Homo sapiens: one gene and its partner. The protein of the gene in region 1 interacts with the protein of each later gene in a biochemical or structural test. Each region holds a gene or a part of one and is shown on either strand. Other genes may lie near its edges. The genes, in order: CDC26 and LATS1.

Region 1 (3,367 bases):
AAAAAAAAAAAGACTTTAGAAGTCTATGTGTAAATTCAAATAAATTTTTAATATTTCCATTCACTTTAGTATACATGCTTGCAAATTGATTTTATGTTTTGTATCTGAGACTTTATCACCTTCAGATTTTCCTCCTCTCTTTCATTTTTAACAGCTAATAGTTCACTGGGTTTGGCCCTTAGTGTTGACTTCAGTATGCTGAGACGGAAACCAACACGCCTAGAGCTAAAGCTTGATGACATTGAAGAGTTTGAGAACATTCGAAAGGACCTGGAGGTATGAATACAACTTTGTGTTTTTTTGAGATGGAGTCTCGCTCTGTCACACAGGCTGGAGTACAGTGGCATGATCTTGGCCCACTGCAACCTCTGCCTCCTCTGCCTCAGCCTCCCGCGTGCTGGGACCACAGGTTCATGCCAGCACGCCCAGCTCATTTTTTTATTTTTAGTAGAGTTGGGGTTTTGCCATGTTGGGGCCAGGCTAGTCTCAACTCCTGACCTCAAGTGATCCATCCACCTCAGCCTCCCAAAGTGCTGGGATTACACGCGTGAGCCACTGCACCCAGCCATGAATACAACTTTCAAAGCTTAAGGAATATTTAAGATAATAATTCTTGTGTGGGCACAGTGGCTTACATCTGTAATGCCAGCATTTTCTGGCCAGGAGTTTGAGACCAGCCTGGGCAACATAGTGAGACCTTGTCTCTATGTTGGGCAGGGTGGCGCATGCCTGAGCTACTCAGGAGGCGGAGGCGGGAGGATTGCTTGAGCCCAGGAGTTTGAGGTTACAGTGTGCTATGATGGCTCCACTGTACTCCACACTGGGCAACAGTGAGACTCTCTGTCATACATAAATATGTATATACACACACATACATACACAATAACTTTAACTTCTGAACTGCAGACTCTTAAGCCAACAGCTTATTTGAAATCTCTGTTTGGATGCTTTACAGGCATCTCAAACTTCATGTATGTCTCCTGTGGCTGCTGTAACAAAGTACCACAAACTTCATCGCTTAAGACAACAGAAATTTATTATTTCACAGTTTTATAGGCCAAAAATTAGTATTGCTGGGCTGAAATTTAGGTGTCAGGAGGGCCACATTCCCTATGGAGGATCTAGGGAAGAATCCATTCCTTGGCTCTTCTAGCTTCTGGTGGCTGCTGGCATTCCTTGACTCATGACTGTATCACTCCAGTCTCTGCCTCCAGAGTCATATTGTCTTCTTTTCTGTCTGTGAAAACTTCCTCTGCCTCCTTCTTATGATATGTGTGATTGTGTTTAGGGCCCACCTGACTAACCCAGGATAATCCCCCCTTCTCAAGATCCTTAATTTAGTCACACCTGCAAAGGCCCTTTTCCCATATAAGGCATTTATAGGTTCCAGGATTAGGACCTGCTAGCTTTGGGGGCCATTTTTCAGCCTACTACACTTAACATGTTAAAAAAAGAAGAGAGAAAAACTCTTGATTTCTCCCTTGAACCAGTCGTCCCTTCCATTCTTCCCCAGTGTTTCCCATCTCAGTATTGATTCAGTTCCTCAGGCCAGAAACCTAGCAGTCATTCCTGAGTCCTCCCTTTCTCTTACGCTTTATATTCGATCTGTCTGTAGACCCTTTGATTCTACCTTCAGAATATGTCTGGAATCCACCCATACCTTTTCATCTCCACTGTTACAGTCCTGCGCTAAGTAACCGTCTTTCCCTGTATAATTGTAGTGGCATCCTAACTGGTCTTCTACTTCCATTTTTGTCTCTTTCAGTGCATTCTGCATCCAGTATCAAGAATGATCTTCAGAAATTTTCAAATCCTGTCATTCCCGTTTAAAACTCCTCAGTAGTTTTCTGCACTTATAACAAAATCTGAATTCTTCACCATGGCCTACAAGATTTTGTATGTTCTAGTGCCTCTCCAGATTCATTTTGTGCCATTCTTTGCCTTGCTCTCTATACCCTAGCCACATTGGCTCTCTTTCATTTCCTTGAACATGCCAATCTATTTATCACTTCCATGGACTTTCCACATATTATTTCCCCCTGCCTGGAGTGCTCCCTTTCTTCCAGTCTTCATTCAAATGTCAACTCTTCAATTTAAGAGGCCACTTTTGACCGTATCCAAGTTTCATGTGTCATTCCCGTCCATGCTGCCTCCATCTCTGTAGGCTCTCACAAAGCACCATATTTTTTTCATAGCATTTATTATAATTTACAATTTTTTTTATTGTAAAATCATTTACATTAGGGACGTTGATTGCAGAAATCATGTCTGTTTGCTTCACCATTGAGTTCTTACCATCTAGTTCATAGTAGGGGCCCCATATGTATTTTTAACTGTGGCCTTGCTACATGGTATTAGATGTCCATTAATAAGACTTAAATTCTTCAGTGGTCTACAGAATAAATTCCAAATTCCCTAGCATGGCATATGAGCTCCTTGTGAGCTGGTCCTTGCTTATCTCTCCACTTTCACTGCTGGGTTATCTTTAATCTCAGTGCCTATACACAGTGTTCCCTTTGCCAGAAAAGCCCTTTCTTTTTCTTTGCCAGGCTAACTCTTACTCCTTCCAGCCCCCAGCTGGGTTAGGCTCAACCTTATCCTCCTGTGCTAACCTCTCTCATAGGCACGGTCACTCTCTGTTGTAATTGTCTGTTTGCTTTTGTTTTCCCTCACTGGGCCATAAGCTCCTTGAAGTCAGGGATTAGTATATTTCTCTCTGCATCTGTTCCCTGCAATACCAGGTCCAAAGGAGGGCTCAATGCAAGTCTATTTTCATTTGCTGTCCTAGTAGGTATCTTGTACTATATGGCAGAGGACAGTACGTTTTGCATATATTCACCAACAGCTTTATTATGTATTGTATATGCTTCATATTAAGACTAATAACTTAGATTTCTTTCCCCCTGCTTCATCCCAAGAGACTTTAGTGTTCTCTAAGTATCGTAATTTTTGCTTTCTAAAAACTCATATATTATTAAGCATGAGCTTTAAAGTATGGCTTAAACTTCAGTTGTAACGAATCTCATAAAATGCTAGCATGCTGAACTTTGACTCTACAGTCAGCTCACTATTGAGTTAGTCTTTCCACTAAAGACAGTTATCTAGTGGGTTTTACCTTGTTTTAGAGTAACTTAGGAAGCAGGGACAGTCATGCCCTAAAGTGAAACCAGTAGAAAACTGGCCTGTTTCATTTATTACCAACATGAGTTTGATTATACTACTGTGACTCTAGCTTCTGAAACAGCAGTTGCTCAAAGTGGGAAGCCTTTTAAGTGATTTCATTCCATTTGGATATTCTCAGAATGATAGAGTTGTTTGCCTTTTCGAACTTGTTTTCACAAAGGTATTTAGGTAGAACTTTCTAACA
Region 2 (3,827 bases), on another chromosome or scaffold:
ACAAGTCTATGTTTGTGAAGATAAAGACACTAGGAATAGGAGCATTTGGTGAAGTCTGTCTAGCAAGAAAAGTAGATACTAAGGCTTTGTATGCAACAAAAACTCTTCGAAAGAAAGATGTTCTTCTTCGAAATCAAGTCGCTCATGTTAAGGCTGAGAGAGATATCCTGGCTGAAGCTGACAATGAATGGGTAGTTCGTCTATATTATTCATTCCAAGATAAGGACAATTTATACTTTGTAATGGACTACATTCCTGGGGGTGATATGATGAGCCTATTAATTAGAATGGGCATCTTTCCAGAAAGTCTGGCACGATTCTACATAGCAGAACTTACCTGTGCAGTTGAAAGTGTTCATAAAATGGGTTTTATTCATAGAGATATTAAACCTGATAATATTTTGATTGATCGTGATGGTCATATTAAATTGACTGACTTTGGCCTCTGCACTGGCTTCAGATGGACACACGATTCTAAGTACTATCAGAGTGGTAAGTAAACTCATAAAATTTATTTTAGTTTGTTCATAATAATGTAATTTATTGATGTAGTAAAATATAAGATGGTATCATCACTGGATGAGAGCCAGAAGATGTGGGTCAGGTCTTGATTCTGTTGGATAAACTTGGGTGACTCCATTAGGCACTTAGACTTATGAAATGAAAGAATGTGCTAGACTTGATTGTTTAGACTTATGAAATGAAAGAATGTGCTAGACTTGATTGTTTCTAAATATTATTAACATTTTTGAGTCACACCTTTTACATTTTATTTGAAAATATGCCAGACAAACAATTTTTTTTTTTTTTTTTTTTTGATGGAGTCTCGCTCTGTCGCCCAGGCTGGAGTGCAGTGGCACCATCTTGGCTCACTGCAATATCCCCCTCCTGGGTTCAAGTGATTCTCCTGCCTCAGCCTCCCGAGTAGCTGGGATTATAAGCACCTGCCAGTACGCCCGGCTAATTTTTGTATTTTTAATAGAGATGGGGTTTCACCATGTTGGCCAGGCTGATCTCGAACTCCTGACCTCAGGTGATCCACCTGTCTCAGCCACCCAAAGTGCTGAGATTATAGGTGTGAGCCCCCTGCGCCTGGCCAAAAACATTTTTAAAATAATTTTTTAATGAATCCTCATATCCAACATTCAGTTAAAGAACTAGATTATCAGTACTTTAGAAGCCCTTAAACAATCACTTCCCCTTTTCTCCTCCACAAAGATAATTATTATTTCAGAACTTTATAATCGGTTCTTTACTTTTATCGATCCTTTTATCACAAATGTGTATATCTTTAAATAATATATTATTTCATTTTGCCTACTCTTTAACCTTTATTTAAATATAATCTATATATATTCTTTGTGTTGACTTGTTTGAGGTTCCTCCATGTTATTGCTTGTAACATTTATTTTCACTACTATTTAGGATTTCATTACATGACTGTTACACAACTTATATAACCCTAAACACTTTATGATCCTTGATCCTATTTTATCCTCACAATGTCACTGTGAGGCAGGATGAAGAAACTGAGACCTAGTTAGATGAAGTAACTTGCCCAAGGTCAGACAGAAATCAAGTGTAAGGGCTAGGCTTTGAACCCAGGTTTGTCTGATTTCAGGGCCCATGTTATTTCTACTACACCACACTGCCTCACCAAGATCCCTCCAAGCGCTAATGGAAGTGTAAGTCAATCTAACATTTGTTAAATACTATGTACTAGGTGCTTAACCATATATTCTAATATGCTCGCAACAATTCTCTGAGGTAAGTATTATTAGCCTCCTGTGCTTCTGTGAACACAAGTAGATTGACATTAAAATGGGTAGAACTGAGACAATTGAACCTACTTTAATGTTCGACATAGTGGAATTTAGTGTCTTCCCAGATTCGACTGAATTATTACCTGGAAAGCTTCTTAAAAATATGATTCCTAGGCTCTATTCCCATCTTTTGATCAAAAATCTTCACTGGGGCATAGAAATCTTTTTGTTGTTTTTTGTTTGTTTGTTTGTTTGTTTTTGAGACGGAGTCTCGCTCTGTTGCCCAGGCTGGAGTGCAGTGGCGCAATCTCGGCTCACTGCTAGCTCTGCCTCCCAGGTTCACGCCATTCTCTTGCCTCAGCTTCCCGAGTAGTTGGGACTACAGCCGCCGGCAACCACGCCCGGCTATTTTTTTTTTTTTTTTTTTTTTTTTTTTTTTGGATTTTTAGTAGAGACCAGGTTTCACCGTGTTAGCCAGGACGGTCTCAATCTTCTGACCTCATGATTTGCCTGCCTCTGCCTCCCAAAGTGGCTGGGATTACAGGCGTGAGCGACCACGCCCAGCCTGTTTGTTTTTTTTTTTTTGAGACGGAGTTTTGGTCTGTTGCCAGGCTGGAGTGCAGTGGCGCGATCTCGGCCCACTGCAACCTCCATCTCCTGGGCTCAAGCGATTCTCCTGCTTCAGCCTCCCAAGTAGCTGGAATTACAAGTGTGCTCCACCACACCCAGCTAATTTTTGTATTTTTAGTAGAGATGGGGTTTCACCATGTTGGCCAGGATGGTCTCAATCTCTTGACCTCATGATCCACCCTCCCTGGCCTCCCAAAGGGAAATCATATTTTAATCAAACATCCCAGATAAATATTACAGTTAGGTTAATTTCTTATATTCTAGGTGACTTCATGCCATCTATATGTCAATGAATTCCAAATCTCTCTCTCCAGAAATGGCCTTTCTCTGAAATTCGTAATTTCTCTATCCAGCTGCTTCCTGGCTATCTTCACATGGATTTCAAATAGGCCTTTCAAACTTCACATGACCCATAAAGAACTTTTTTTTTTAAGCATAAATCAGATACTGTTATCTTCTTGCTTCGAACTCTGCAATATCTTCTCACTTTACTTGAGGTAAAAGGCAGACCATTTCTATTGCTTGCAAAACCCACATGTATTCCTGCCGCATTTCTTACAGTTCTTGCCCCATTTCCTACAGTTCTCCCCTTTATCAGCTGTGCTGGTCTTCTCTCTGTTGCTGTTATTTCTGTGTGGAATACCTAATCCTGATTTATAAATGGTTGAGTCCTTCTTGTTTTTTTACGGTTTAGCTGAAGTCACCTTCTTAACTGGTCTTCCCTAGCCATTCAGTCTTATGTAGCTATCCAGTCACATTTGTTACATCACCCTGTGTTGATTCTCTGTGTAGGGTATGTCACTGTTCCTTATATGTGTAATTGTTTTGTTTCTTTTCCTACTAGAATGTAACCAGAGCTTTGTCTTATTATCACTGTCATTTATTGAATGAAAGATGGATCTAATTTGTTTGAAAGTTTGTCCAGAGTAGTAACAGGGAGTGGGCTAAATAACAAACTCTTAATCTCCCCATGACTCATATTGTTGTTATTTAACATTGCATAAATTACTAAATCTTAGGCTAATTTTTTTTAAGTGTAAAATCCTTCCTATTGACATCTCAGAAAATAGGCTCTAATTGGTAATAAACACCATCAGTGATTTGGCATACATTGTGTCTTAGTTTGTCACAAGGGAGAATGTTGTTAACCCTAAACCACGATGTCAGAAGATTAAATAGACTTCAGGTTTACTGTTGTCATTGTTGACTTTATTTACTTATTCTTTTGTTGTGCAGGTGACCATCCACGGCAAGATAGCATGGATTTCAGTAATGAATGGGGGGATCCCTCAAGCTGTCGATGTGGAGACAGACTGAAGCCATTAGAGCGGAGAGCTGCACGCCAGCACCAGCGATGTCTAGCACATTCTTTGGTTGGGACTCCCAATTATATTGCACCTGAAGTGTTGCTACGAACAGGTAAAGCACTTCTTT

Evidence for each region.
Region 2: of the proteins of CDC26 (region 1) and LATS1, one has a biochemical effect on the other in vitro, tested with the Homo sapiens proteins (one study listed by BioGRID).

Annotation. Positions count from the first base shown.
Region 1 is NC_000009.12:113,269,336-113,272,702, reverse strand, and holds part of CDC26 (anaphase-promoting complex subunit CDC26), read left to right. Parts: intron 1-154; 5' UTR 155-195; coding exon 196-276; intron 277-3,367. UniProt on the Homo sapiens protein: Component of the anaphase promoting complex/cyclosome (APC/C), a cell cycle-regulated E3 ubiquitin ligase that controls progression through mitosis and the G1 phase of the cell cycle.
Region 2 is NC_000006.12:149,676,540-149,680,366, reverse strand, and holds part of LATS1 (serine/threonine-protein kinase LATS1), read left to right. Parts: coding exon 1-492; coding exon of another isoform or gene 493-500; intron 501-1,621; coding exon of another isoform or gene 1,622-1,685; intron 1,686-3,629; coding exon 3,630-3,812; intron 3,813-3,827. UniProt on the Homo sapiens protein: Negative regulator of YAP1 in the Hippo signaling pathway that plays a pivotal role in organ size control and tumor suppression by restricting proliferation and promoting apoptosis.